Regions from separate parts of the Homo sapiens genome. Here regions 1, 2, 4 and 5 are each linked to region 3. The links come from fine-mapping of genetic effects on plasma protein levels. Region 3 holds a variant in brackets. A gene starts in each other region. All regions are shown on their reverse strands. Region 1 holds the start of APOF (apolipoprotein F). Region 2 holds the start of CCL25 (C-C motif chemokine ligand 25). Region 3 overlaps LOC105371874 (a long non-coding RNA gene). Region 4 holds the start of DKK4 (dickkopf Wnt signaling pathway inhibitor 4). Region 5 holds the start of LBP (lipopolysaccharide binding protein).

Evidence for each region. A credible set is the group of variants that fine-mapping cannot tell apart. PIP is the posterior inclusion probability: the model's chance that the variant is causal. The UK Biobank Pharma Proteomics Project read protein levels with antibody pairs (Olink). The fine-mapping took linkage between variants from a reference panel, not from the people measured, so its PIPs are less certain.
Region 1: APOF starts here. The variant in region 3 is the best candidate, but not a certain one, in a credible set for the plasma level of the APOF protein (UK Biobank, PIP 0.83).
Region 2: CCL25 starts here. The variant in region 3 is the best candidate, but not a certain one, in a credible set for the plasma level of the CCL25 protein (UK Biobank, PIP 0.85).
Region 4: it holds the start of DKK4, and the variant in region 3 is the best candidate, but not a certain one, in a credible set for the plasma level of the DKK4 protein (UK Biobank, PIP 0.55).
Region 5: LBP starts here. The variant in region 3 is the best candidate, but not a certain one, in a credible set for the plasma level of the LBP protein (UK Biobank, PIP 0.63).

What each region holds. Positions count from the first base shown.
Region 1 is chr12:56,361,502-56,367,562 of GRCh38, reverse strand. APOF (apolipoprotein F) reads left to right here and starts at 4,706. Exons shown (of 2, transcript NM_001638.4): 1 at 4,706-4,833; 2 at 5,374-6,061. The coding sequence starts at 4,818.
Region 2 is chr19:8,052,502-8,058,517 of GRCh38, reverse strand. CCL25 (C-C motif chemokine ligand 25) reads right to left here and starts at 5,758. Exons shown (of 6, transcript NM_005624.4): 1 at 5,696-5,758; 2 at 5,396-5,518; 3 at 2,249-2,366; 4 at 2,019-2,152; 5 at 598-717. The coding sequence starts at 5,468.
Region 3 is chr17:68,824,462-68,830,833 of GRCh38, reverse strand. The region is part of intron 1 of LOC105371874 (a long non-coding RNA gene); the gene reads right to left. Among named protein-coding and RNA genes, the nearest start is that of ABCA8, 130 kb to the left of the region's middle. The variant C/T (reference allele first, on the strand shown) is at 3,170.
Region 4 is chr8:42,374,428-42,380,799 of GRCh38, reverse strand. DKK4 (dickkopf Wnt signaling pathway inhibitor 4) reads left to right here and starts at 3,571. Exons shown (of 4, transcript NM_014420.3): 1 at 3,571-3,865; 2 at 4,970-5,120; 3 at 5,887-6,039. The coding sequence starts at 3,755.
Region 5 is chr20:38,340,944-38,347,270 of GRCh38, reverse strand. It overlaps LBP (lipopolysaccharide binding protein), which reads right to left and starts at 789. Exons shown (of 15, transcript NM_004139.5): 1 at 631-789. The coding sequence starts at 754. RefSeq lists enhancers at 2,736-3,513, 4,294-5,070.

The DNA of each region.
Region 1 (6,061 bases), not on the chromosome of region 3:
ATGCTGGCCATGGCTAGTCTTGAACTCCTGACCTCGTGATCTGCCCGTCTCAGCCTCCCAAAATGCTAGGATTACACGCGTGAGTCACTGCGCCCAGCCCCCATGTTGTTTTTAAGAGTCTCATGTTCTACCGACTGAGCCAGCCAGAGCTATGTTGTATTTAAATAAATATCGTTCTACATCTTCCTTTCTAGTTTTATGCCATTTATTTTTTATTCTTTCCACATTACACTGGTTAGAACTTCCAGTACAATGAGGAAAAACTGGTAAGAATGGATATTTCTGCTTTGTGATAGATCTTAGGAGACAAGGATTAAATCTTTCACTCCTTCTAGTGTTGCTACACAGAAACTATAGAGTCCTAGGAGGCTGGGTGCAGTGGCTCAGCACTCTGGGAGGCCTAGACAGGAGGATCCCTTGAGCCCAGGAGCTCGAGACCAGCCTGGCCAACATAGTGAGTTCCCTTCTCTACAAGAAAATTTTAAAAATTAGCCAGGTGTGGTGGTACGTGCCTGAAGTCCCAGATATATAGGAGTCCGAGGTGGGAGGATTGCTGGAGCTTGGGAGTTCAAGGCTGCAGTGAGCTGTGATTGTACCAACTGCACTCCAGCCTGGTATACGTGTATGTGTGTGTACGTATATTTTATCCATGTAGGTATATGTATATATATTGTCTTAGGGATTCCCCAGGGGTTTGGGGTCTAGTAATTTCAGACAGTGTTGGACTCCTTTCCACTTAGTTCTTGCTGTTTCTAAGTTGGCACTGTGTCCCTGGAGACTTACTCCTCTGCTTCTGTCTTTGCTCTTAGTTGTCAGGGGCCACTCCTGGGAACTGAAAGAACCGAAAAAAATAGAGGGAGGGACCCTGGACCCTGCCATTGGCCTAGTCCCTTTGGCCATGTGCCTGAGGTGAGTGACATCAGAGGAAACTTTAGGCCATAATGATATGTAGGAACTGGTACCATTTTTAGGAGGCATCAGATGTCTTATTTCCCTAATTTTTGGACTAATGTTACCCCTAAACCCAAGATAAAGCCTAATTCCTGGAGTTTTGGTTAGATTTGGAAAGTTACTGCTCAGCTGATGGACATGTTTTATTTGTGTTTTGCATTGGAATTAGAAAAGTGAAAAATAAACCAGGTGCAGTGGTTCATGCCTCTAATCACAGCACTTTGGGAGGCTGAGGTGGGAGGACTGCTTGAGACCAAGAGTTCAAGACCAGTCTGGGAAACATAGTGAAACCTCATCTCTACAAAAAAAAAAAAAAAAAATTTTAGCTAGGCATGGTGGTGCACACCAGTAGTCACAGCTACTTGAGAAGCTGAGGCAGGAGGATCTTTTGAACCCAGGAGTTAAACGCTGTGGTGAGCCATGATCAGGCCACTGTACTCCAGCCAGGGAGATAGAGCAATACCTGGACTGGACTCTAAAAAAGAAAAAAAAAGTTGCTCTGATTTTGTCTTATTTGTCAATCTGTCCAGTTTCCCTGGACTCCCATCCAGTATATTCTCTTTTTCAGACAAAGTCTCGCTCTGTCACCCAGTCTGGATGGTGCAGTGGTGTAATCATGGCTCACTGCAGCCTTGACCTCCCCAGGTTCAGGTGATCCTCCCACCTCAGCCTCCCCAGTAGCTGGGACTACAGGTGCATGCCACCACTCCTGGCTAATTTTTATAATTTTTGTAGAGACGGGGCTTTCGCCATGTTGCCTAGGCTGGTCTCAAACTTCTGGGCTCAAGCCATCTGCCTGCCTTGGCTTCCCAACCAATATATTCTTTTAATAAGAAAAATGGTGACCAGGCGCTGTGGCTGGCTCAAGCCTGTAATCCCAGCACTTTGGGAGGCCAAGGTGGGCAGATCACCTTAGGTCAGGGGTTCAAGATCAGCCTGGCCAACATGAAGAAACCCCGTCTCTACCAAAAATACAAAATTAGCCGGGAATGGTGGCACACGCCTGTAATCCCAGCTACTTGGGAGGCTGAGGCAGGAGAATCACTTGAACCTGGGAGGCGGAGGTTGCAGTGAGCTGAGATCGCGCCATTGCACTCCAGCCTGGTCAACAAGAGCGAAACTCCGTCTCAGAAAAAAAAAGAAAAGAAAAATGGTTTAGGGGTCCCAGAGATCACCAGCTATTCTGCCTTACCCTTTCTCCCCTCAAGAAGATACGGAGGACCTTTTCCTCAGCTCAAATATAGGTTTAGGGTAAAACCTTAGGATAGAAAAGATATGTCACTGGGTGCCGTGGCTCACGCCTGTAATCCCAACACTTTGGGAGGCCGAGGCAGGCAGATCATTCGAGGTCAGGAGTTTGAGACCAGCCTGACTGACATGGTGAAACTCCATCTCTACTAAAAATACAAAAACATTAGCTAGGCGTGGTGGCGCACACCTGTAGTCCCAGCTACTCGGGAGGCTGAGGCAAGAGAATCTCTTGAACCTGGGAAGTGGAGGTTGCAGTGAGCCAAGATCACGCCATTGCATTCCAGCCTGAGCAACAGAGTGAGACTGTCTCCAGAAAACAAAACAAAACAAAAATTTGCCAGGCATGGTGGTGCGTGCCTGTAATCCCAACTACTAGGGAGACTGAGACACAAGAATCGCTTGAACCCGGGATGTGGAGGTTGCAGTGAGCTGTGATCGTGCCACTGCACTCTACCCTGGGCAACAGAGTGAGACTGTGTCTCCAGAAAAAAAAAGGAAAAGAAAAAGAAAAAGAAAAAAAAAAAAAGATATGGGACAGGACTGCAGGGCCTAAAAGGGGAAAGGTCAGTTTGTCAGTATGGGTCAAAGGTGAGAAGGACAAAGTCTGGGCTGGGAAGAGATGCATAAATATTTGCAAATGTTTTGTCCTTCACTGTTTTGGAAGCCATCAACTTTCTGGTTTCCTTGTGATTCTGGGAAAGGGCAGATTAAAAACAGCAACAACAACAATAATAGTAATTCAGGTCATGAAGATACCAAAGCAAATGAGATGTTTGGACTGTTTTTTTCCTCTGACTTGTTTCTCCTCAAAATAGGAGGATCACCCACATCCTTTAAGAGTGAAGATGAGGTGTGCTCAGGGCAACCGAAGTTTCCAAGAGCTAAGACACTTTCTAGCTCTGGCCAGTCTTGGTGTCTCTTTGTCCTGAGCCTTTCTCCACTTCCCAACCTGAGCACTGCTTCCTTCCAGCAGGGCTGCTCTGCTGTCCCCCCATGGTCCAAGCTGTGCTGCTGCTTTGCTGTGTCCTGCTGTCCCTGGTGTCTGCCTTTCCAAGAAATGCTCAGAATGAGACTCTGACCCTCCAGCCATCTTTAACAGAGACTGGGCATCCATCAAACATGCTCTCCATTATTTGGAGAACATGGAGAGCCAGATTCCTCTCCCAGATCCCAGGATCTGCCAAGATCTCTTACACACAGCCCCCTCCCTAGCCCCTCTGCCTGAGTACCTGTCCAACTTAGCTCTGAGGGTGCCCTTGGAGGAGGTGGGCTGCCCAACTGAGGCCCATGTTCTGCAGTTTCAGATGCGAGGAAAGGATACCACTGAAACCCTCATCCGTGAGAGTCAAAAAGTTCAATGGGGAGGAAGGCAATACCAACATCATTGTGACGAATCTAGTAGTCCCTTAGGGAAGTGTGAATAAACCCAGCACCCAGCTGCCCATCCTGGGAAATGTATGGATGGTGGCAAATATACCCACTGGGGTAGCTGGCCTACCAGGTAGCTCAGATGGTGATTGAGTTTGCTGAGAAACCATCTCCCATGATGCTTGGTGTCACAGTTCAAAGTTTTGGGTGTCCACATCACCAAGAACTGCAGGTATGAGTCTTGGGAGCATATTGAAGAATTAGGCAAAAAGTTGAAGAAGCTCTCAAGATCATTTAAATTGTCCATGGACAGTGACAATATAATCTATCAAATGTTCCACAGCTATTCTGAAGTGCTTTGTGAGGAAAATGATCCAGGAATTGATCCCGGCTCATTTCAGCTATTCAATATCACATAAGTAATGAGTCTCCTTTCCCAGGACTGTATTCAAGGATGGCACACAGTAAGTAGTTAGAAATGTTGGAGACCACTTAGGACAGATGAATGCTCTTTATTTCACCTCTTCCCTTAAACACATATGTGACCAGTGTTAGCCTTGCCCCTCTCCACTTAGTAGGTGTCAGCTCCCCTCCTTTTTTTTTTTTAAGACGGAGTCTCACTCTGTCACCCAGGCTGGAGTGCAGTAGTGCGATCTTGGCTTACTGCAACCTCCACCTCCCGGGTTCAAGCAATTCTCCTGCCTCAGCCTCCTGAGTAGCTGGGACTACAGACGCCCACCACCACGCCTGGGTGTATATATATATATATATATATATATATTTTTTTTTTTTTAGTAGAGACAGGGTTTCACCATATTGGCCAGGCTGGTCTCGAACTCCTGACCTTGTGATCCGCCCGCCTTGGCCTCCCAAAGTGCTGGGATTACAGGCGTGAGCCACCATGCTCAGCCGCTAATTTAATTTTTAAAATGAAGAGAAATGAGAGTATCACAAACATCTCATCTTTCCTAATTCTGAATTTCCCTGGCTCCTATCATGAGCTTAGAGTGGGAATGTGGCAGGGACATACAGGAAATGCCAAAGAACAGGACTGTAGGCATAGAGGTTGAGTGTGTGACAAGGGGCACAAGGTTTGAGCAGCCAGTATAAATGGGCAAATATTTGCAGAGATTACATCCTTCACTGATCATAGGGGAAAGCAAATATCTCCTTTCCTCATGGGACACAGAACTAGGCAGAACAGGATCAGGAAGCGATCAAACCTACCAAGGCAGTCTCACTTCTCAATGACTGGACTGTGTGGTAATTTGGGGTCCCTATATATGGGTGGAAATAAAACAGAAGTCCCTGGTGACCTGTAAATGGGGGAGACCAAGTGGGAGCAACTGGGGTGCATTTCCTATTTCCTAGGCCTTTACCTAAAAAGAACAGAAGCTTGGGGCCAGGCGCGGTGGCTCACATCTGGAAGCCTATCACTTTGGGAGGCGGAGGTGGAAGGATCACTTGAGCCCAAAGTTCAGAACTAGGCTGGGCCAGATGGCAAAACCACGTCTCTACAAAAAATTTAAAAATTAGCTGGGCATGGTGTCACGCACCTGTAGTCCCAGCTGCTTGGGAGGCTGAGGCAGGAGGATCCCTCGAGCCCAGGAATTCAAGGCAGCAGTGATTTGTGATCCCATCACTGCACTCTAGTCTGGGCAACAGAGCAAGACCCTGTCTCTAAAAAGAAAGTACAAAAGCTTGGAAGCAGGTGATGTATGAGGTGTCCCCCTAACTGAGTCTTGGGCTCACCATCGCCCTTAGGGAAATGGTTTGTATGTTTCGGATTTCTCCCCTTTCTAGGGTACTCTGCTCCAGACATGCGTGGCCTCAGACTCATCATGATACCAGTTGAGCTGCTACTTTGCTACCTCCTGCTGCACCCTGTGGATGCCACTTCATATGGAAAGCAGACAAATGTCTTGATGCACTTTCCCTTGTCCTTGGAATCCCAGACACCCTCCTCAGACCCCTTGTCCTGCCAATTTCTGCACCCAAAGTCACTGCCTGGTTTCAGCCACATGGCCCCTCTACCCAAGTTCTTGGTAAGCCTGGCTCTAAGGAATGCCCTGGAGGAAGCTGGTTGTCAGGCTGATGTTTGGGCTCTACAGCTACAGCTCTACCGCCAGGGTGGTGTGAATGCTACACAGGTCCTCATCCAGCATCTTCGAGGGCTCCAGAAAGGCAGAAGCACAGAGAGGAACGTGTCAGTGGAAGCCCTGGCCTCTGCTCTGCAGCTGTTAGCCAGGGAGCAGCAAAGCACAGGAAGGGTCGGGCGCTCCCTCCCGACAGAGGACTGTGAGAATGAGAAGGAGCAAGCTGTGCACAATGTAGTCCAGCTGCTGCCAGGAGTGGGAACCTTCTACAACCTGGGCACAGCTTTGTATTATGCTACTCAAAACTGCCTGGGCAAGGCCAGGGAACGAGGCCGAGATGGGGCCATAGATCTGGGATATGACCTTCTGATGACCATGGCTGGGATGTCAGGGGG
Region 2 (6,016 bases), not on the chromosome of region 3:
ATATATAATATATTTACTTATATATATTATATATTTATATATTATATATTTACTTATATATATTATATATATTTATATATTATATATTTACTTATATATTATATATATTTATATATTATATATTTACTTATATATTATATATATTTATATATTATATATTTACTTATATATATTATATATATTTATATATTATATATTTACTTATATATTATATATGTTTATATATTATATATTTACTTATATATATTTTATATGTATATATAGAGAGAGACACACACACACAATGTCAGAATTCAGTAGAATTACAGGACAACCACCCGGTCCCTGCTGGAGAATTGCTGGCTTTGGGGGGCCCTGGAGCTCTTGGGCCACTCCCCTGGGGCTTTACTTTCTCACTTGCTGTGGTGTCTTTGCGCTGAGTCACAGCAGTGGACAGCCACCGAGGACCCTCCCCTGTGAATCTGCGGCACTGACCGCACAACCACCTCTCCTGGGTCCTGGAGGTGAATCTCCTGTCCCAGTGTGAGCCAATCACGAGCCCTCAACCCTCAGCAAAGGTGATGGATGGGAGACAGTCACATGACCAAGAGTCCTTACCTGAATTAGCTGATATCAGGAGGGAGACATTCCTCTTACTGCTGCTGATGGGATTGCTAAACTTGGACGATGATAACTTGGAGTTTCCAGAACTCAACTTCTTTACAGCATGAGGGCCTGCTGGAGAAATGGAGAGAGAAATAAGCAAGAGCTCTGCCATCATCCTTTGAGCTCCTGGATCCAGCTGAGCCTGAAGCTGTTGACTGGTTATTTAAGCCAATGAGTCTCCCATGTGCTTGAGCTTTCCATCTGTACCAGTGGAAAGTGTCCTGATTAAAAGAGCTGGACTGGCTGGGTGCAGTGGCTCATGCCTGTAGTCCCAGCACTTTGGGAGGCCAAGGCAGGTGGATTGCTTGAGTCCAGGGGTTCAAGTCCAGCCTGGGCAACATGGCACAACCTGTCTCTGCAAAATGAAAATAAAAAATTACCCAGGCATGGTGGTGTGTGCCTGTAATCCCAGCTACTTGGGAGGCTGACGTGGGAGGATTGCTTGAGCCCAGGAACACAAGGCTGCAGTGAGATGTGATTGTGCCACTGCACTCCAGCCTGGGTGACAAGAGTAAAACCCTGTCTCAAAATAATAATAATAATAATGAGCTGGAGCCAGGCATGGTGGTTCATGCCTATAATCCCAGTGCTTTGGGAGGCCAAGGCGGGCAGATCATCTGAGGTCAGGAGTTCGAGACCAGCCTGGCCAACATGGTGAAACCCCGTCTCTACTAAAAATACAAAAATTAGCCAGGCGTGGTGGCGTGGGCCTGTGCTCCTGCTACTTAGGGGGCTGAGGCGGGAGAATCGCTTGAATTCAGGAGGCAGAGGTTGCAGTGAGCCGAGATCGTGCCACTGCACTCCAGCCTGGATGACACAGCAAGACTCCATCTCAAAAAATAAAAATAAAAAATAAAATAACAATGAGCTGGATTAGTGGAGCATGCCTGTAGTCCCAGCTACTCAGGAGGCTGAGGTAGGAGGATTGCTTGAGCCTGGGAGGTCAAGGCTTCAGTGAGCTGTGATGGCGCCATTGCACTCCAGCGTGGGTGACACAGTAAGACTCTGTCTCAAAATAATAATAAAAGAGCTGGACTGGTGGCACACACTTGTAATCCCAGCTACTTGGGGAATCTGAAGTGGGAGGATTGCTTGAACCCACAAGTTTGAGGCCGCAGTGAGCTATGATCATGCTACTGCACTCCAGCCTGGGCAACAGAGCAAGACCCCATCTCCAGAAACAAAAACTGGACAATGACTCAATCAGTTGGTCATTCACTTGGTGCCCCACTCACCAGCAACTGGCTTTGTTTGGGGTTCAGGCAGGTGTCAGTATTCTGGTCTCCAATTCCCTCCCTCGGGGTCTGAACCACACATGGGCTTGCAGGCAGGGAGGGCAGGCCCCCTAGATGCCCAGCAGAGGTCTTGCCCACCTTGGAAGGTCTGCGTGTTGTGGTGGAGCTTTGCAAAAACCTTATTTCGAGCATCCAGGAGCTTCATGGCTCTCTGCACCTCCCTGCTTTTGGGGTTCCCACACACCTTCCTGTGTCTCTTGGGGAGGTAGAATCTGTGGTGAGCAGAGGGGGGTGCCCAGGTTAGGGTGTAGGCTGGCAGCAAGGCTGTGTGTGCACCCCACCCCCCCAGCCCCCACGGCCCCACTCACATCGCAGCAGGCAGATTGCAGCTCCCGCTCACCTCCTGGATCCGGTAAGTCCAGGCGCGCCGGAGCACAGCCCACCCAATGGGGTAGTGGTAGGCCAGGCAGCAGTCCTCAAAGACACCTGCAACCACACAGCCGCCCAGATACTCGCACCCTTGCATGTTAACTTGGCAGGGCCAGCCACAGGCAAGGGCACCTGTCTGCATACCTGTCTGCTCATACCACAACCCTTCCAGGCCCGGCAGAGGCTGAGGAACAGCCTTAGGAAAGAAAAAGCCTCCTGGCTCACCCCTTATCCCTGGATATTGGGACAGCCAGAGGTTGGAGAGGACCCTTGGGTCCCGGCTGGGAAGGGTGTGGAACCAGCAAATGAACGGACCAAGGCCACCTCTACTCCTGCTCTGGGGAAAAGGGTGACTCGGAGTGCAGGTGCACTGTGAGGAGGGGCCAACACCACCCCTCCCCAGCCAAGTTCTTCCCTCCTAAAAATGAGCTGATTGGCAGCTCAGCACAGTGGCTCATGCCTGTAAACCCAGCACTTTGGGAGGCTGAGGTGGGTGGATCACCTGAGGTCAGGAGTTTGAGACTAGCCTGGCCAATATGGTGAAACCCCGTCTCTACTAAAAAATATAAAAATTAGGCCGGGCGCGGTGGCTCATGCCTTTAATCCCAGCACTTTGGGAGGCCAAGGTGGGCGGATCACGAGGTCAGGAGATTGAGACCATCCTGGCTAACACGGTGAAACCCCGTCTCTACTAAAAATATAAAAATTAGCCGGGTGTGGTGGTGGGCGCCTGGAGTCCCAGCTACTCGGGAGGCTGAGGCAGGAGAATGGCGTGAACCCGGGAGGCAGAGCTTGCAGTGAGCCGAGATCGCGCCACTGCACTCCAGCCTGGGCGACAGAGTGAGACACCGTCTCAAAACAAAACAAAACAAAAAACAAAAATTAGCCAGGCATGGTGGTGGGCGCCTTTTTTTTTTTTTTTTCCAGAGTCTCACTCTGTCACCCAGGCTGGAGTGCAGTGGCTCAATTTCAGCTCACTGCAACCTCTGCCTCCCGGGTTCAAGCGATTCTCCTGCCTCAGCCTCCCGAGTAGCTGGGATTACAGGCGCCCGCCACCACGACCAGCTAATTTTTGTATTTTTAGTAGAGACGGGGTTTCACCATGTTGGCCAGGATGGTCTTGATCTCTTGACCTTGTGATCCACCCGCCTTGGCCTCTCAAAGTGCTGGGATTACAGGCGTGAGCCACTGTGCCTGGCTGATAGTGGGCGCTTTTAATCCCAGCTACTCTGGAGGCTGAGGCAGGAGAATCACTTGAACCCAGGAGGTGGAGGTTGCAGTGAGCCGAGATCACGCCATTGCACTCCAGCCTGGGCGACAATAGCAAAACTCTGTCTCAATGAAACAAAACAAAACACCAACCAAACAAACAAAAAATTGTTTTAATACAAAGTAAAGAGCTCTCAGTAAATGTCAATGTCTAGACAAGCAGAGATGAAACACACAGATGAATTAGACCTAGTGTTGTCTTCAGGGAGCTCCCGGGAAACTGATCTCTGCAGAAAGGGGGAAGCACAGGCACTGTGGGGGGTGCCCAGAGGAGGAGGAGGTGATGCCAGAAAGTTCTGGGGGGATGAGCAGGTGGAATGAATGAGCCGAGGATGAGCTGATGAGATAGTGGAGGAAGCTGGGGTGCAATTCTCTGCCTAAATGGCCTTTGGAGTTCTCTGCAATCTCACCTCTGCCAGAACTAACCTCCAGAGGCCGAGTCTGAGTCCCTGCAGAGCCCAGCCCAGCAGGAGCAGGGAAAGGGAGGACTCGAGCCCTCCAGGTGTCTCCCAACCGCGGCCTCTGAGGGCAAGGGGCAGCGCATTCTGTTGGAACCTCGGACTGCAGTGCCAGGCAGGTAGTTCCCAAGGCTGGAGGCCAGGATCGAAGGGCTGGGCTGGGCCTGGCTCTGATAGCAAAACAATCAGACCACAGCCCAACCCCCTTCCCAGGCAAAGGCCAAGGACTTGGACCCATCAGACCCAGCCGAGGGGCAGGTGGGTCAGGTGGGGGCAGACAGGGAAGGAGGGTGGGACCCTGGGTCTGCCGCCCAGCCAGGGACCCTGCTTTGGCCAGCTGCTGAAACTCAGAGGATGTAGGACCCAGTGTCAGGGCTCCCGTGGGGACACCCCAGGCCCAGGAATTGTCCTTTGGCGACTGAAATCCTCAAGTGCTTGCTCTGCGGTAGGGAGTGGGGAAGAAGGAAAGAGTTCCCTATTAATAACAGGAACAGTTACTATTGCCGCCGCCAGACATGAGGCCTAGTCTTTTGCAGGCATGAGCTCACTGGACCCTCAAGTCAGAGCCATGCAGTGGGAATTTTAGATTCCCACTTTGCAGCTGAGGAAACGGAGGCTCCTAAAGGTTTAGGAAGCCGGGCACAGTGGCTCAAACCTGTAATCCTAGCACTTTGGGAGGCTGAGGCAGGCGGATCGCCTGAGATCAGGAGATCGAGACTACTCTGGCCAACATAGTGAAACCCCATCTCTACTAAAAAATACAAAAATTAGCCGGGCATGGTACACACGCCTGTAGTCCCAGCTACTTGGGAGGCTGAGGCAGAAGGATCGCTTGAGCCCAGGAGGCGGAGGTTGCAGTGAGCCAAGATCGCGCCACTGCACTCCAGCCAGGGTGACAGAGTGAGACTCTGTCTCAAAAAAAAAAAAAAAAAAATGGTTTAGGAGCAACTAACTCTCAGCTGGACTGCATGGAGGGACCAGGATGGGAATCCACTCTTGTCAGTCTCCAGGGCCCTGATCTCCAACCCCACCCCTGGCTCGGCAGGATTAGGATTCTACAATACATCCCTGGCAGTAACTGGCTTTGCCCACAGCTGGAAGCCACCCTCTGCTCCCTCACATCTTTAGGAGTCTTGCAAAAGACTCCATGGGGCTCTCGAAGAAGGAACTGGGGACTCTCCATCTCCCCGACCCCATCCCAAGAGCTAACCAAACACCAGGAGTTCCTGCATGTCAGGAGCGGGAGAATTCAGTGGAGATGGGATTGGGGAGACTTCCGGAGGAGATAAGAGACAAAAGGGGTGGGGTGGGGGCATGGGGAGAGGGGCACTTGGTGGTAGGCATTGCCGAACACAGTACCTTGGGTGTGGACAGCGGGGGCCCAGGCTCCCAGGAAGCCGGCCACCAGGCAGGCCAGGAGCCACAGGTTCATGCTGCAGGCGGGTCCTCCTCCCTGGGCACCTGGACGAATAACGGGGCCACCTGGGGTCGTGGAGGGAAGTGGTAAGGACTGAGGAAGAGGAGGGGAGTGGGTACTGGGAACATCCCCCCTCTTAAGCCCCAGGCATATGGCAAGGGAAGGAGGTTGTATAAAGTAGGAACAAGTTGTGCTGGAGGGAAAAGCTGTTCATCTCAGTCATGTTCAAGGAAAAGACTCACCGATATCCACTGGGTCAAGGGAGCTGATGCCCGCCGGGCTGTAGGCCAAGCTGTCCCATCTGCAGGACCAACACGCTGAGCTTCACTCTTTATAGACAGAGCCCCACCCAGCCACCCCCTGCCCGCCCTCCTCCCTTCCTCCTCCTCTCCACCTGCACTCTCAGCCTCTGGAATTCTCCCTCTTCTACAGCAAGCTCCAACCTCGACCCACAGGCCCCCTTGCCTCCCCACTCCCCATCCCAGGCCTCCCAGCCAGCACCCCTACTGTCTCCAGAAAGGGCCTTTTCCCCTGTTTCCCTCACCTGCACACACCTGGTGGAC
Region 3 (6,372 bases):
GAAAACTGGGAGAGTCAGGCACCCTCAACAGGCAGTTATTAGAGCAGGCTATATCAAACGTATCCAAGAGGTAAACAATCATAAGGAAACAGACTCCTAAGCCCTCAATTTCCTATGCATGCTTTGCTAAAATCACTAGATTTGAGGATGTTTCAATGATGAACGTGCAGATTCTTGCTTCCCAATGCTTCTTTTGTAACAACTCTTCTCCCACCTAATAAACTGCAGTCACTCCTCACCCCCTTATGAATCTTACCATTAGCATGGCTCTGGGTATAAAAACATCTGGAATGACACACAGTGAGATTACTAAAATGACAGTGTCCCTGTTGAGAAGGTGAATGATGCTAACAATTAGAAAACCATCGAGTCAAATGGTTTCTAATTTTCTCTTTCAGCCAAATTATAAGATAAACTAGTTGAATTGCCAGCTGATGCATCAGTTAAAAGAATTTTTAGTAATAGAATGCTTTGTGACTTTTGCCAAATATCTTGGGAGAAACATAAATAATTTAGTAACAGTACAATAACATTCTATTCCTATTTACTTATTTGTGTAAGTTAGTTTTCTCGATATTTAGGTATATATAAATGAAAAAAAGGAACAGATATTGTTCTAAGAGTTATCTTATTCCAGCAATTAGCAATATTCATTCATAAATAAGTGAACTAAAAGAAAAATAAACTTCAATTCACCTCATTAAGATACACATTTCCAATAAAATTTAATTTTAATGTTTAATATTTACATATTAACATTTATATGATATGCATGTTTTTGAGAAATTGTGAATAATAATTATAATGATAACCCAATACTGCAGAACGTTGGATCACATAGTCTTTTGGTAAAAGAAAATTTAAAATTAAATTTGTATCTTACTTTTTTTAAATGGAAAGATATCTTGGTGATATCCTTTGGGGGCTCACATAGAAGTAACTTTTATGTTTTTTTGCAGAACTGAGGATTTGAAAAGAACCAACCAAAATCTCAACGGTACAGGAATGCTCCTCCCCAAGAATGCTGTTATCTGCAAAGACTTTCAGTGCTCTTTACTTTTCAATTACCTTGCCATAAGGATCTTATCACACCTCTCTCCACGTTCTCTTCCAGCCAAATTATAACAGAAACTAGGTGAATAGCCAGGTGATACATCAATTAAAATAATTTTTGATAATAGAATGCTTGATGACTTTTGTCAAATATCTTGGGAGACAAGCAAATACATCTATTTTTGCTCAAATAAGAGGATTGTTTAGATCTCCAATAATTTAGAGCACGTTATTGATATAGTGCATTGCCATACATACCCTGGGGTCACAAGATTTTCCAGAGTATATGTGAGCATAAGAAGCTTTAAAGAACTCAACTTCCAGATACACAAACTCCTTTTGACCACTTTCCTTAAAAAGATGCTTGAGAAGGCATTTGTGGACTTCCAGTTCTTCTTTTCCACTTCCGTTTTTGCATTTTTTCTGGTTTACAAAAGAAAGGCATTCCTGGTACTGATTCTGAATCTTACTGTGGAACATTACTCCGAAAAATAATTAAAAAAAAAAAAAAAAGCAAGCGCTTTTGATCATTCCTGAGTGTGTGTTTTCTAAAAACAAACACTTTGTAAGAAAGGGTAAAAGGAAATACCCAAAGCTATCCCTAAGTAAAAAGAACAAAACTGGAGGAATCTCATTACCTGACTTCAAATTATACTACAGAGCTATAATAACCAAACCAGCAGGGGACTGGCATAAAAACAGACACGTAACAATGGAACTGAATAGAGAACCCAGAAACAAATCCACACACCTACAGTGAACTCATTTCCCACGAAGTTGCCAAGAATGTACACTGGGGAAAAGACTGTCTCTTCAATAAATGGTACTGGGAAAACTGGATATCTGTATGCAAAGCAATGAGACCAGACCCCCATCTCTCACCATATACAAAAATCAAATCAAAATGGATTAAAGACTTAAGTCTAGAACCGCAAACTATAAAACTACTACAAGAAAATCTTGGGGAAATTCTCTAGGACATTGGCTGGGCAAAGATTTCTTGGCAACACCCCACAAGCACAGGCAACCAAAGCAAACATGGACAAATGGGATCATATCAAGTTAAAAAGCTTCTGCACAGCAAAGCAAACAATCAACAAAGTGAAAGAGAGCCCACAGAATGGGAGAAAATATTTGCAAACTACCCCTCCGACAAGATATTAATAGCCAGAATATATAAGGAGCTCAAACAACTCTATAGGAAAAAATCTAATAATCCCATCCAAAAAATGGGCAAAAGATTTGGATAGACATTTCTTGAAAGAAGACATACAAATGGCAAACAGGCATATGAAAAGATGCTCAACATCACTGATCATCAGAGAAATGCAAACCAGAGCTACGATGAGCTATCATCTCATTCCAGTTAAAATGACTTATATCCAAAAGACAAGCTTTGTACATTTTTGGTAGAAATGTAAATTAGTACAACTATGGAGAACAGTTTTGAGGTTCCTCAAAAAACTAAGAATTGAGCTACCATATAACCCAGCAATCCTACTGCTGGGTATATACCGAAAACAAAGGAAATCAGTATATTGAAGAGACATCTGCACACCTTATTTGTTGCAGCACTGTTTACAATAGCTAAGATTTGGAAGCAACTTAAATGTCTGTGAACAGAGGAATGGATAAAGAAAATGTGGTACATATACACAATGGAGTTCTATTCCGCCATTAAAAAAAAAAAGAAAGAAAGAAAGAATGAGATCCAGTCATATGTAACAACATAGATGGAACTGGAGATCATTATGTTAAGTGAAATGAGCCAGGCACAAAAACATAAACATTGCATGTTCTCACTTACTTGTGGGATCTAAAAATAAAAACAATTGAACTCATGGACATAGAGGGTAGAAAGGTGGTTACAGGCTGAGCGGGGTTGCTCAGGCCTGTAATCCCAGGACGTTGGGAGGCCGAGGCGGGCAGATCACGAGGTCAAGAACTCGAGACCATCCTGGCCAATATGGTAAAACCCCGTCTCTACTAAAAATACAAAAATTGGCCGGGCCCAGTGGCTCACGCCTGTAATCCCGGCACTTTGGGAGGCCGAGGCGGGCGGATCACGAGATCAGGAGATCGAGACCATCCTGGCTAACACGGTGAAACCCCGTCT[C/T]TACTAAAAAATACAGAAAATTAGCCGGGCGTGGTGGCAGGCGCCTGTAGTCCCAGCTACTCAGGAGGCTGAGGCAGGAGAATGGCGTGAACCCGGGAGGCGGAGATTGCAGTTAGCCAAGATTGCGCCTCTGCACTCTAGCCTGGCAGCAAAGCGAGACTTCGTCCAAAAAAAAAAAAGGTTGTTACCAGCCTGGGAAGAGTAGTGGAGGGATATAGGGGGAGATGGGGATAGTTAATGGGTACAAAAATAATAAAACAAAAGAATAAATCCTACTCTTTGATAGCATAATAGGGCGACTATAGTCAATGATAACTGAATTGCATATTTTAAAATAAAGAATGTAACTGGATTGTTTGTAACACAAAGGATAAATGCATGAGGGGATAGATACCCCATTCTCCATGATGTGCTTATTTCACATTGCATGCCTGTATCAAAATATCTCATGTACCCTGTATTAGTTCGTTTTTATGCTGCTGATAAAGACATACCCGAGACTGGGCAATTTACAAAAGAAACAGGTTTATTGGACTTACAGTTCCACATGGGGAGGCCTCACAATCATGGAGGAAGCCAAGGAGGAGCAAGTCACATCTTATGTGGATGGCAGCTGGCAAAGAGAGCTTGTGCAGAGAAACTCCCGTTTTTAAAACCATCAGATCTCGTGAGACCCATTCACCATCATGAGACCAGCACAGGAAAGCCCCGCCCCCGTGATTCAATCATCTCCCATCGGATCCCTCTCACAACACGTAGGAGTTATGGGAGATACAAGATGAGATTTGGGTGGGGACACAGAGACAAACTATATACCCCATAAATATATATACCTACTATGTACTCACAAAAACTTCAAAAGATAATTTAAAAAAAATAAGTAAAATTAAAGGCATTGTGATGAATGCCAAAAAAAAAAAAAAAAAAAGAGTAAAAGGGAAAAAGACAGCACCTTAGTATATCCAGGGAACGAATTCATGAGAAGGTTTTGTGCTATGGCTATACATCTGTCTGTCTTTCCATGCATTAGAATTTGGAGGTGAGAAGTTTGTGACAGAGATGTGTATTAAAATGTTTATCTTAATTAAAATGAAGCCAGTTTTTTTTTCTGACAGAAAAAATATGCTTCCCTGCATGGTTGATTTTTACTGTGAAGACTGGTTTTGCCAGTTAGATTATATGGCAGATATTTTTCCATACATTAGATATGTATAAATATGCAACTCTAAGATTCTGAGGGAAACACACACGCACAAACACACACACACACACACACACAGTGCTGAAATTCAGGTAGTATACGAATATACAAAGATTTAAACTTAAGAAGAAAATTTTCGATGTCAACTTAAAAATGTATGAAAGGTCGTGAAGGCAGCAGAATAATGATTATTGCAGGTGTGATCTACTGATGAATGCTGAAATTAGTGGCCAAAGACTTAAGAAGAAACAGTATATTTGTATAACATCCAAGAAACTCCCCATAGTCTGAATTAACTACAGTGGATTAAATTCCTTGAGACTCCTCCCTTCAAGAGAGGAAGTCTAATTCCTTCTTCCTGGGTGAGGGTAGGATTTAATAACTTGCTCCTAATGAATAGAGTGTGAACAGGAGAAAGTGCTGCCTTTATAGTGGAGAAATCTGGCAGAAACGCCTTAACCAAGTGACCAGGGTTAATATCACCAGTAATAAGTCATGCTAACATTGTATACACTCTTTACACACATTGTGTATGCTGGAATCAGAAACACTATTTTCCTCTATGGTAGAACTTTTCCCCAAACTCCATAACACCAGCCCAATCATAAGAAAATTTTGGATTAACCCAAATTGAGGGGTATCTTATAAAATACCTGAGTAGCATTCTTCAAAAGTGTCAAAGTCATGAAAAACAAGGAGACTGAGAAACTGTCACACATTGGAAGAGACTAAGGAGGCATGATGACTAAATGCAAAATTGTAGGTCCTAGATTAAATCCTGGGACAGAAAAAAGGACATCAGTGAAAAAAACTGGTGAAATCAGAATAAAGTGCAGTTTTGTACCAATGTGAATTTTTTAGTTTTGACAAATGGACGATGGTTATATAATATGTTCACGTGAGGGGAAGCTGGGGAAAATGTTCATCAGTATTCTCAGTACTATCTTGGCCACTCTTCTTTGAGTGCGAAATAATTTCAAATTTAGAAGTGTTTTAAAAAATACTATAACCCGTCGGGCACAGTGGCTCATGCTGGTAATCCCAGCACTTTGGGAGGCCAAGGTGGGAGGATCATGAGGTCAGGACATCGAGACCATTCTGGCCAACATGGTGAAACCCCGTCTCTACTAAAAATACAAAAATTAGCTGGGCATGGTGGCACATGCTTGTAATCCCAGCTACTCAGGAGGCCAAGGCAAGAGAATCACTTGAACCAGGGAGTCAGAGATTGCAGTGAGCCGAGATCACACCACTGCACTCCAGCCTGGCAACAGAGCAAGACTCCGTCTCAAAAAAAAAAAAATAAAATACTATGACCAATTAAATGACAGCAAAATGAATGTGTGAGAGGGCATATAGTTTTCCAAAATGTAATGAGTATGAAAGGAATAATAGTTGAACCTCCCTGTCCTGGAAACAAAAGTAAAGAGTCAGTGTTTCGTTATGTCAAATGCTAGTGATAGAGCAAGTGAGGTGATGAAAATGGATTAACTGATCCGCTGAAAATGGATGAATGGATTGAGCAATAATAGAAAGGTCATCAGTAACCTTAACAAGAGCAATGTTGATGGATTGCAGTGCGGAATCCTGGAAGTGAGATCAAAAGAGCATGGGAACAGAAGATAGGAAAACAATACAGACAGCTATTTCAATGATTCTTTTCTGTAAAGGGGCACAGAGAAAAGGCATTGGTGCTGGAAGGGATTTGCATGTTCAAGAAAGAGTTTTATTTAAAGTGAGAGAAATTACAGCATGTTTGACTGTATGATAATAAGAATGGTCTAGCCTGGCATGGTGGCTAACACCTGTAATCCCAGCACTTTGGGAGGCTGAGGCAGGCAGATCATGAGGTCAGGAGTTGACCAACATGGTGAAACCCCGTCTCTACTAAAAATACAAAAATTAGCCAGGCATGGTGGCACACGCCTATAATCCCAGATAGGAGGCTGAGGCAGGAGAATCACTTGAACCTGGGAGGCAGAGGTTGCAGTGAGCCGAGATC
Region 4 (6,372 bases), not on the chromosome of region 3:
TTTCTTTCTTCCTTTCTCTCACATTCTTCCTCTTTCTCTCTCTCTCTCTCTCTTTCCACTCTCTCCTTCCTTCCTTTTTTCCTCCCTTCCTCCCTCCCTTTTTTCTTTTCTTTTCTTTTCTTTCTCTTTCTTCCTTTCTTCCTTCCTTTCTCTCACTTTCTTTCCTCTTTCTTTCTTTCTCTTTTTCTTTCTCCTTCCCTTCTCTCTCCTTCCTTCCTTTCGTTTGTCTTCCTTTCATTTTTTCTTCCTTCCTTCCTTTCACCCTTCCTTCCTCTCTTTTTTCTTTTCTTTTCTTCCTTCCTTTCTCTCTCTCTCTCCCCCTCCCTCCCTCTCTCCTTCCCTCCCTTCCTTCCTTCCTCTCTCTCTTCTTCTTTCCCTTCTTTCTTTTCTTTCTTTTTTCCTTCCTTCCTTTCTTTCTTTCTCTGTCTCTCTTTCTCTCTTTCCCTCCCTCCCTCCCTTCCTTCTTGTTGGTGGGAGGACAGGGTCTCGCTCTGTCACCCAGGCTTGAGTGCAGGGATAGGATCATGCAGCCTTGACCTCCTAGGCTCAAGCAATCCTCTTGCCTCAGCCTCCTGAATAGCTAGGACTGCAGACACGTGCCACCACACCAGGGTAATTTTTGTATTTTTCGTAGAGATGGGTTCTTGTTATGTTGCCCAGGCTGCTCTTGAACTCCTGGCTTCAAGTGATCCTCCCATCTCACCTTCCCAAGTAACAGAGACTACAGGCAAGTGCTGGCATGCCCAGGTTTTTTATTTTTTGTGGAGACAGGGTCTTGCTATGTTGTTCAGGCTGCTCCCTGGCCTCAAGTGGTCCTCTTGCTTTATCCTCCTCACGAAGTGCTGGGTACAAGCATGAGCCACTGCACCCAGCGGATCATGGCATTCTCAGTCTGATATATCTCCAATGACTTTACATTGTGCAGAGAATAGAATCTGATTTTCTTAGCATGGCATATCAGGGTCTGCATCTTGCTTCATCTCATCCTTCCATCATCTGCCGCAGCCACACAATCTCTCACTAGCACCTGAGTGCACCTCCTCCCTCTTGCACACACCTCACCCTCTGAGCCCAGGTGAGGATATCTCCGACTTCCCAACTTAGGAAGCCCCTATGCAACCAACAAAATTCAGCTCAAATATTACCTCATCTGTAAACACATTCCTTTATTTCTCTAGAAAGTCTAAATCATGCCTTCGTCTGTATTTATATCTTCATAAGTCCTCCACCCTTATATTTATACCTTTATTTTAGTGCTTGTCATAATACATTGAAATCATCCATATGTACATGTCTTCTATCTGGATCTCTCTCTCTCTCTGTGTCACCCAGGCTCTGTCATCCATACATACAAGTTTTCTGTCTGAATCTTTCTCTCTCTCTCTCTCTCTCTCTCTCTCTCTCTCTCTCTCTCTCTCTCTATATATATATATATATATATATATATAGGCTTAATCTCCTGGGCTTAAATGATTCTCCCACCTCAGCTTCCTGAGTTGCTGAAACTACAGGTGAACACCACTATGACTGGCTAATTTTTTTTTTTTTTGAGATGGAGTCTCACTCTGTTGCCGAGGCTGGAGTGCAGTGGCACCGTGTTGGCTCACTGCAACCTCGGTCTCCTAGGTTCAAACAATTCTCCTGCCTCAGCCTCCCGAGTAGCTGGGATTACAGGTGACCACCACCACGCCCGACTAGTTTTTATATTTTTAGTAGAGACAGGGTTTCACCATATTGGCCAGGCTGGTCTCGAACTCCTGACCTCAGGTGATCCATCCACCTCAGCCTCCCAAAGTGGTGAGATTACAGGCGTCAGCCACCGCACGCGGCCTACTTTTTTTTTTTTTTTTTTTTTTGTGGAGACAGGATCTCAATATGTTGCCCAGGCTCGTCTTGAACTCCTGAGCTCAGGAGATCTTCCCACCTTGGCCTCCCAAAGTGCTGGGATTACAGGTGTGAGCCACTGTGCCCGGCCATTGGAGTTTCAAATTTTATTCCTAACATGTAATCCGAGGCTCTGTTCCATGCCAAGTGCTCTAAGTGCTCAGTGGCTGTTTGTGCCGTGTTACAGGAGTTCCCGTCAGTTCTTTCGCCTGTGTATATTGCCAGGGGCCTTTGGTAACCTGAAATTCCCTTACAGTGAGGCAGCAGGAAGCAGAGAAACCCGGCAGAGACAGAACCCTGGGGGCTCTTTCCTTTATCCTTGGTCATAATTGTACAACTTGAAAATAAATTCTGTAACACCCCTAGTCACCAGGGTTATCATGCTATCAAAGGGTGTTGTTTGATGTCAGTTTAAGGGATTAAAACAAGTAACTTCCATACGAGAGGTAGACAAGCAATACCAACCCAAGGACAAGGGCCAAGTAGTAGGAAGGCTCGAATCACCTGCATCACCCTCGGAATGGCACTGCATTACTCAAAATTGAGAATGTTCCCATGCACAGAATGCTGAGATTCATGTCAATGAATTGATGTTAGGTTGTTCTGCAGGAAAATGTAGTAAATAATAAGATTATCATTTATGGCATAGAAAAAATGCATTTTAGATGACTCTATGCTAAGAGCAATGAAACAATGAAGAGAAAAAATGATTTTTTGATCCAGATCTAGATTGTTCTACCCTTAAAGTATTTAAGACAGTGATAAGCACATGTCTAAATTACCTGACTAATAGTCCAAATGGAAAAAAATCAGACAGGAAAGGGATGAAGCAGAAGTTTTAAAAAATTCGTATTAGGAAAATTGGAAATACATGAAATTTCATCTGAAATCAGCCAGAGACTTGGATCCTTGTTCTGCTTAAGTGAGTTTTACATAATGCAACACAAATTAAATATGTTGCTGATAAAATGGACCCAAAGCTTCGTACTGAATTGTGTAAAATGCGCTATCATTGTTCCCACCATTGAAAAATGGGATTTTCATAAATTACATTATTTTCCTAATAACCCTAACTTCAAACAGTTCAATTTTCATTTAAAGGAAAGTAATTTCCCAAATGGCATTTAGTCAGAACAGGTGCTGTTACGTTCACAACTTTTAAGCGGTTGGGATTTTGACATCTGGATGCCAGAGCTAATCAGGGGGCGTTTTCTCTTTTTCTATCTGTCCTCACTATCTGAAGCCCAGTTTACAGCTTCTCAGTGTATTTTGTACCTCATTAGTTTTTGGCATCCTCTATAGCATATTGGCCAGTATGATTCATCCTTTCTTTGAGCACAATTAGCTGTGAAAACAGATCTTAGGGCAGACTCCCTCCCTACCCCCAAAGGATTACTGAAGGTAGGAAATGCAGGTGATTATCAGAGTTTGCCTTTGATACAGACATCCTGCTCTGCCGTGGCCCTTTGAACTAACTTTGATATGCAATAATTAAGAGGGATTGAACCCCTGGAGGAGAAGCCGCATGGCCCTGCCTCTTCTCTCCTTCTATTGAGTCCTTGTTTTGAACTATTGATCAAACAGATTTGAAGGGATTTGTTGAAGCCTGTGTGGGGCAGGAGGAAGGAACGGAGCGGGGAGGAGGCACATCTGGTTATAAATAGTTTCAGGAGGAACCTGCTGGTCAGACTTTGCTCAGCCGATTTCACGCACCTTACTCAGACTAAGGTTTACTTCTTTCAGAAAAAGCAGTGACAAACAGACGACGTGCTGAGCTGCCAGCTTAGTGGAAGCTCTGCTCTGGGTGGAGAGCAGCCTCGCTTTGGTGACGCACAGTGCTGGGACCCTCCAGGAGCCCCGGGATTGAAGGATGGTGGCGGCCGTCCTGCTGGGGCTGAGCTGGCTCTGCTCTCCCCTGGGAGCTCTGGTCCTGGACTTCAACAACATCAGGAGCTCTGCTGACCTGCATGGGGCCCGGAAGGTAAGGCTGCTAGGGAGGGGGGCGAGGTACGGGACTGCTGACAGCTGGGGTGTTTTGTTTAGGCTTTAGTAAGTCATTCTGATTCATGTATGAAATGTCTTACCTAGCAGGTAAATTGAATTGGTTTCGGATTTGGGAGGGCATCCTGGTAGGATCAGTGGCCTTAGTGTGAATGTATGAAATAAACACAGTGGCTTTTCACATCATTCGGCCATACGTTTGTCTATAAATCACGAAATAAACGAACACTTTGGAAGCTCTACTATGTGCCAGCTCTTTTACATGTAATACGTCATGTACTCTTCCTCACAATTTGAGATAGGTGAAACATTCCCTAATTCCAGATGAGGAAATAAGACTCAGAGATGTTGAAGAGCTTACCCAAGCTCACACAGCCAGCAAGCAAACATGGGAATGAGAATTTAAACAGAGGGCCATGATGCATTGCCTTGTCACCATCTAACTTCACAGAGAGAGTTGTTTTAGGAATCGCTTTATGTATGTGTATATGTTATTATATATCGTATAGATTATTACATATATCATATATGCTACACCTACGTTGTATGTCTATGTAGAAGCATCAACTGTGTATGAGAACAATTGATCTTCGGTATCTCTTTCTCTATGTCAATGAGGCATCATTGAAAATCAAAGGACAGTTCACTTAGGGAAGGGTCTCTAAGCTAAATGTGATTCACTAGAGTAAAAAATCAAATAGGAATGCCACAAACATCAATAGTATGTTTAATGAAACTGTAGCCAGCTTCTAGAGTTAAGATATATTGAAAATCTCATACTCACCTGTTAAGACACACATAGGAAAACATTTTTTCCCATTTTCACAAAGAGCACAGGAAAACTAAATTCTGAGTTAAGTCAATTTTTCAAACTCAAATAGCCTTTGCAGCGCCTAGGTCTCCCCGGGTGACATGAGCTTCCCTTTGTGGGAGAAAACCATTTCCACTGGAGAGTAAGATGCTGCCCAGGGTTTGTCACAGCGCCACTGTCCTTTGGCTCCCTCCGCCTCCTGCCTTCAATAATAAGTCATCTTCCATCGTGTTGGGGGTTTCCTAGCCTTGTGATAACAGATTCCCTCCACAGGGCTCACAGTGCCTGTCTGACACGGACTGCAATACCAGAAAGTTCTGCCTCCAGCCCCGCGATGAGAAGCCGTTCTGTGCTACATGTCGTGGGTTGCGGAGGAGGTGCCAGCGAGATGCCATGTGCTGCCCTGGGACACTCTGTGTGAACGGTGAGCGACATAACGCCAACAGTGGTTTTTAAACCGAAGGTAGTGTCTAAGCCCCATAGACTAGAATATTCCAGGGTAGGCACTCTCTAATGGTGCTTCCTAGATTCATGCTTGAAGTAAATGTATGCAGCTGCCTTTTCTTTTCCTTTTTTTTTTTTTTCTGAGGCGGAGTTTCGCCCTTGTTGTCCACAGCTCACTGCAGCCTCGGCCTCCGGGTTCAGGTGGTTCTCCTGCCTCAGCCTCTGGAGTAACTAGGACTACAGGCATGTACCACCATGCCCGGCTAATTTTTGTTATTTTTAGTAGAGATAGGGTTTCACCATGTTGGTCAGGCTAGTCTCGAACTTCTGACCTCAGGTGATCCACCTACCTCGGCCTCCCAAAGTGCTGGGATTACAAGCGTAAGCCACCGGACCCGGCTTGCCTTTTCTTAATGAAACAAAATAATTTATTTCCTGGCAACAGCTCTTGCCAATGACTTGGAGATAATGATTTTAAAGGAAAGACTCAAGTTGTAATCATTCAAATACTTCCATTTCCACTTGGATACCATTAACTACCTTTAATGGAATGCAATTTCCACTTAGCTACTTTCTCTGCCACATGCGAGCATGTAAATATTTAGCACATGTTCCAGAAATCTAGAAAGTTATATATAAACTGAAGGCAGAGGTGCTGCCAAACTATGCAACAGTAGGATAATTAGTGTGTCTGTGGTTCTCCCCCTTGAAGTTAATAATTCTAGTTACACCTGGTTGTCCCTCAGATGTTTGTACTACGATGGAAGATGCAACCCCAATATTAGAAAGGCAGCTTGATGAGCAAGATGGCACACATGCAGAAGGAACAACTGGGCACCCAGTCCAGGAAAACCAACCCAAAAGGAAGCCAAGTATTAAGAAATCACAAGGCAGGAAGGGTAAGAACAGCATTCGCAGCATATTTTATTTCAGAAATGCATTTTCTCCTCCCAGCCTCTTAAGGATAGGGTGAGACTGATTTTATTCTTCTCCATCCCAGAAACACTTAGGAAGCATGTGCTGTTTGTTATCTCTTTCTGTAAGAAGCTGTGGGGGTCACGTAGAGAGTAGCCTAAGGTAGTCTGCAGCCAGTAACAACGATCAATTCTGATGGGTAGGGGTGGAGTCGCCATGGCATTACTGCTTTTAGCGTAACACCTAGCTCTGTGAGACCTGCGTGCTGTGTCTGTTTTTACTTTGTGGCTGTCAGTCATAGGTCCCATTCCCTTATC
Region 5 (6,327 bases), not on the chromosome of region 3:
TGCCTGGCCTGCCCATTCTTTAAAATTGAGGAATAATATACATAAAGTACCTAACGGGCACAAATTTTAAAGGTATTGCTAAATAATTTTTAATGTTTATACAGGAATGTGATCACCACCTGGATCAAGATATGGCAACTTCCAGCACCCCGGCAGACCTCCCTCATGCCCTTCAGGGTCTCTGCCTGCCTCTAGAGGTGACCACAATTCTGACTTCCAGTTCAGAGGCATGTGTTTCCAAACTTTACGCAGAATTTTCCCAGCTGAGTGGTTCCCATCATCAGAGGTGGTGGCTGGTTTAATTGCACACTCTCTCCTGGCTGCCCTCCCTTCCTCATCTCAGTACCGATTCCCTACAGTGTTTCCTGGAATCATTTCCCAAATCAACTACTTGCACGCAAAGCTGTGTTCTGTTGGCTGGTGGAGGACCTCACTACCACAAATAACATGCCCAGGGCACTCAGCTGGTGGGCAGTAAGGCCAGAATAGGAGCCAGAGCCACCTGACCCAGAAGGTGGCACTGCCCCAGGGAGAGGGTCCGGTCTGTGTCCCCACTCCCTGTCCCCACTGTACCCAGAGCAGCCTGGAGCGTGGGTTTGCCAAGTCCAGCCAGCAGATGTGGCTTCTTACCATACTGCAGTCCCTTGTCGGTGATCCTGGCGACCAAGCCGGGGTTGGCACCCAGAGCCTCTGGGGTGGACGTAAGCAGCAATGCCAGCAGTATGGACGGCAGGGCTCTGGCCAAGGCCCCCATCCTAGATTCCCAGTGCAGTGGGCCAGGACTGTCCCAGCTGTGGATTGGGCCCAGGTCCCTTAAGTAGCCAAGGCTCGATGGCTGGGGGCAGTTCCTGAGGCTGGATGGGTTCCTGGGAGCGGGAAGGGGAGGCACAGGGACTGGAACCTGCTTGCGACATCACTGAAGTCATAAGGTCATACTTAGAAGCCAGTTTTCACTGCCCAGATCAGTGGATGAGGAAGCCTGACTCCTATGATCATCCCTGTCCACCCTCCCCACAGAAAGACCCCATATTCATCACTGTTCATCTTGCCTCATCTCAGCCAGTCTCTTAAGAGCTCGGCTAGGAAGGCCTGGTTTAGCAGATGAGGAAACTGAGGTTCAAAAAAGCCACATAGCTCCCTTGAGATCTCACCCCCAGCAGAGGGCAGGGTTGAGAGTGAAGCTACATCTGGCACCAACCAAACTCTCTTTTTTAAAATATATTGGCTCGTTTATTTAAAAAATAAATGTTTCCCCCAATGGGAAAACAGTGTTTCTCAAACCTTGCTGGTGGTGAAATTTTCTGGAAGGCAATTGGCAAATGTTTAAACAGTTGCATGCCCTGTGACCCAGGAATTCAATTTCAGGGACTTGCCCTTAAATACATAATTGAGTCAGTGTGCCAGTAAATCACTGCTCCAAGATACCACTGCTATGCTGTGGGAAACAGGACAGGAGAAGTGAGACCCAACCTCATGTATCCACCAGAAGGGCATTGGTTAAATGAATTATGACATGCCCCTTAAAGTGAGGCTGCAGAAATAAAGGTATTTCTTGGCAAGGAAAGGGATGTCATGAGGCATCCGTTTCCGATGGCACCATAGAGTAAGGTTCTATTTTGGGGGGTTCAAAATAGGCTTCTATGTTCAACAATCTGGAAAATATTTAGCAAGGAGTCATGAGGCATTGTCTCTGGTTGTGGGGGTAGAATTATAAGTGTTAAAAAAGTTTTTGCTTGTTGATACGTACAATTTTTTTTTCTTTTTTCATTTTTTGAGACAAAGTCTACTCTGTTGCTCAAGCAGGAGTCCAGTGGCATGAACATCGCTCGCTGCAACCTCAACTTCCTGGGCTCAAGTGATCCTCCCACCACAGCCCCCTAAGTAGCTGGGACTACAGGTGTGAGCCACCATGTCCAGCTAATTTTTTGTATTTTAGTAGGGACGAGGTCTTGCTATGTTGCCCAGGCTGGTGTCGAACTCCTGAGCTCAAGTAAGCCTCCCGCTTGGCCTTCCAAAATACTGGGATTATAGACTTGGGCCACCATGCCCAGCCTCTAAAATTTTTATTTTCTTGGGGGTATGGTCCCGGGCATATATTCGCAGTAAGTAAAGATAGTAAAATTTCATTCTGGAAAACAAAATTTATAGTACAGACTGTGTTTAATTTTTAGAGTTTTGCCCCAGCCCTGCTTACATTTGTGAGTTCTGCTTTGCCCTCACCCCCAGGAAGCCTTCCCTGACCACTCCCATGCTTCTCTGGATTCTAGAAAGGGTCCCCTCTGAGGTCCCAGAACCCTTTGCGCTTTCCCCACCACAGCATTAACCACTCTGCTTTTTGATAATTGTGGTCCTTTAAAAATATGCCCACGAATTCTTTGATATTCCTTCCATCAAAAGGTAATGTTTCTGCCCCCTTCCCTTGAAATTGGGCAGGTTTTCATGATGGCCTCAACCAACTGAATGTGGTGGGATTAACAGGGTGACTCCCAATAGGTCACAAACAGCACTGGCAGGCACTGAGGTTAAGATCAGAATGTCCCACGTTAAGCACAGGGAACCCCACAGTCCAGGCCTCTCTGCTCCTCTGTACCGTGTTGCTCCTGTCACTGGGGCTGAGGTTTGTTGGGATCCTCATCCGTCCCTCCCCTCAGTCCCCACACCACCAGTCTGATGGCTCCTTGCAGGCACGGCTGAGTCTTCCATTTCCTGAGATCCTTGCAGCACCCAGCAGAAATTGGAAAGAAACTGATATTTATTGAGCACCTACTATGTGCAGGCGCTGTGCTGGTTAAGCTGCACGTCTCCTCTCATCCTTGCATCAGCAACCCCAGGTGGATATTTTAGTCTTGTCTTGAGATGAAGAAACTGAGGTTTGGCAGGGTGAAGTGATGTAGGCTGCAGTCACCCAGCAGGAATTTAAGTCCAGGTCTGCAGGATGCCATTCCAAAACTCTGGTCAGGGCAGGGTTCTCTTGGGAGGCAACAAGCTGAGCAGAGGCCTCAGGGTAAGGAGCCAGCCTTTGGGAGGCTTTGGAGCAGGAAAGGGCTCACAGGTGCATCCCCAGTGTGCCTAGGGGCCTTTGCTTCCTGGACCTCAGCCTGCCCAGGAGGGGAGGAGAGTGGGGGAGGACATTCTGGAGCATAAGGATCTTATGGGGACATAGATGTCACTCTTCCTCTGGCAGCAGTTTAAGGATGTCCCTGGCTGGGAGTCATTTGCAGGGGTGGGAATTTCCCACAGCAGCAATCTTTGGACCTTAGAGCTGCCACATGGCCCAGGCCTGGCCTCCACCCCTGCAGGTGCCCACTGCTGGCTAAGGTCCCTGCTGATGGCCCAGGACCCAGCAGAGGCCTCAGGGAGCAGCACGACCCCACTGCTGGTCAGAACCCCTGGGCCTTTCTCCTACCAGGCTGTCCATCCAATTCCACAAAAGCAACAGCTGCTACCACTCTGGCCACCACTCAGTCTTATTGCAGTGAAATAGGGACTCTTTTAACAAGGCTGTTTATTGTGTTCTTGTGCAGGAGAGGGCCCCCAGAAATGGCAGTGCATCAAATGATGGACAGGCGATCATAAAACTGTCCCTCTGACATGATAAGTGGCCACGAATGGCGCCAAGAGGGAGAGGAGTTCCCTAACAGATAGTTGACATCATCTGGAGCCAGCAAACCACAATTCCCTGGTAAGGTCGAGCAGAAGGGCAAATGTTGGAGTCTGACTTGTATATGACCTTTTTCTTGCGGCGACGGACCAGTAAGGGAAAATCACCCCAAGTGAGCATGCGCACAACCTTAGTAAACACACTGCGCATGCGGCCCCTCCCAAGTGCTGGCAGGCCATTGCGCATGCAGGGAGGGCGCAGCAGCCCACCGAAGGGAGGAATCAAGGAGGAGAAGAAACCCCAGAACCAAGCCAGTGTATAAAAGCCCCGAGCCAAAGGTTGAGCGGGGCACTTGATCTCTCAGTTGTACTTTGCTTCTTTCAATAAACCTTTGCCTCTGCTTTAAAACTTGCCTGCGTCTCTCAATTGAATTCTTTCCTCTGAGAAGACAAGGGCTGGGAGTGTTGCGGACTCGCCACCGATAATATTCTCACTACAAAAGTGTTACTGAAAAGATTTTGAAAAACCCAGAATTTGGAATCCATAGTGTCTAGAATACTGAGCAGCAAATAGTAGATAATTGCCAAAGGAATAAACAAACCTTATGTTTATCTTTATGGACTCTGGGGCCAGATGGCCTGGATTTGAATCCTGACTCCCCCACGGGGTGACTTTGGGCACTTTGTGACTCAGTTTCCTCATCTCTACTTGGGTTCAGCCAGAGGGTGGCATGGCAGGAGGTCAGATGTCAGGGCACTTTTCCCTGCTGTCTTCTCTAGATCACAAGTGTGGCAGTTGGCTGTGTCCCTCCTGATAAGGCCTTGTCCTTGGCTCCTATTATCTCCTTGGGCTGGGATACCCAGATGCTTTTCTTTGCTGCTTGAGCCTTAGGAAAAACAGTCCCTGGTTGGTTTCCTCAAGCTTGTCCCCCAACTCTAGAAATAGCCACTTTATTCAAATCCCAAGAACCAATGCAGTTGGATTCTCTTTTCTTGCCTGAACCCTGTTGGACACAATTAGCAACACTGAGCATTTCTTCTGCACTTATTCATCTTTTGTGCAAACGCCTGCCTCTCGCAGAGAGCTTTGAATCCTTTTCCAAAGTCTTACAGGTTTTTTGTCAAGGCCCTGCTCCTAATGGGCTGGGGGACCTGGAACAAACTCCACCCCTCTCTGTTCCTCATGTTTCCCCCAAATGCAGATGAGGGCTGGGGACTAGGACAGCTTTTCAGAAACAAAGACGTGCAGTCAAGTCCCCCAGGGATCTTGTTTAGATGCAAATCTTGATCCATCATGTTCCTCTTGGGGCTGAGCCTCTGCATTTTAACAAGCTCCCTGGTGAGGGTGATGCTGCTGACCACGGATTGTGCTTGGAGCTTCGGGAACAAGGGACTAAATGAGCTCCGAGTTCCCTCCAAGCTCAGCAGTTCTCTAATGCTTCACTCTCCTTTTCGATAGTTTTCTATGACGGTGCCCACACTCCTGAGAACACTGACTCTTGAAAGAGAATGATGTTATGAATTCCTGCAGTTCTGAATCTCTGCAGGGTACTTTGGAGTTGGGAGTTTAATATTTATGGCAGCCTCTCCCCAAGCCACATCACCTGCAGATCTGAATGTGTGCCTGTGTACGCACACGCACAGACACACACACATGAGCCCTGAGACATGCGGGCTTACAAAATAAAAGTAGTAACGTCAGTGACGATCCTTTGTGGCTTGAAGGTTGCGTGTCTTGAGATACCAGGAGCCCCCATGGAGCAGGGCTGGTCATGTGGATAAACAGCTCCTCACCCCAGAGAGCCCTTACTTTTACAGATGGGGAAACTGAGACCTAGAGAGGGAGAACTGGCCCAGGTTACACTGTGAGCCTATTGCTGAACTGGAGAGGATAAATCCAGAGTTCTGGCCAGCCAGGGGCTCTGATTCTTGGGGTCAGGCCCATTCAGGCAGACAGCCCTGGATCATACATTGAGAATCACTGGCATAAATGTTTTGAGTTATGCAGATGTGGGTTGAAATCCCAGATCATTTTTAAAATAAATACTTACTGATCACCAACTATGTGGCAGGCATTGGGAATACTACTGTAGCCAGATATAGTATTTTTTTTGTTTTTTTTTTTTTGAGACAGAGTCTCACTCCATCACCCAGGCTGGATGGAGTGCAGTGGTGTGATCTCAGCACACTGCAACCTCCGCCTTCTGGGTTCAAATGATACTCGTGCGTCAGCCTCCTGAGTAGCTGGGACTACAGGTGTGTGCCACCACGCCCGGCTAATTTTTGTGTTTTTAGTGGAGACTGGGTTTCGCCATGTTGCCCAGGCTGGTCTCGAACTCCTGGGCTCAAGTGATCCACCTGCCTCAGACTTCCAAAGTGCTGGGATTACAGGTCGTGAGCCACTGCACCTGGTCAGATATAGTCTTTACAGTATAGTAAGAAGAACTGCGTTTATTCAAATTAGAGCAAACTTGGATTACTGTTGTCAACCCCTGTACCACGGATTTGACATGTATTTGATTCTCATAACAACTTTATGAGGTAGGTACTATAATGATGTTCCCTTTATAGATGAGAAATAGAAAACCTGAGAATTAAGTATACTGCCCAAAGTCACACAGCTGGTAAATAGCAGACGTGGGATTTAAACCCAAGATATCTGGGATCATGGTTCATACTCTTAACCACTGTGCCATGACCCTATCAATCATACCTCTGATTCTTCCC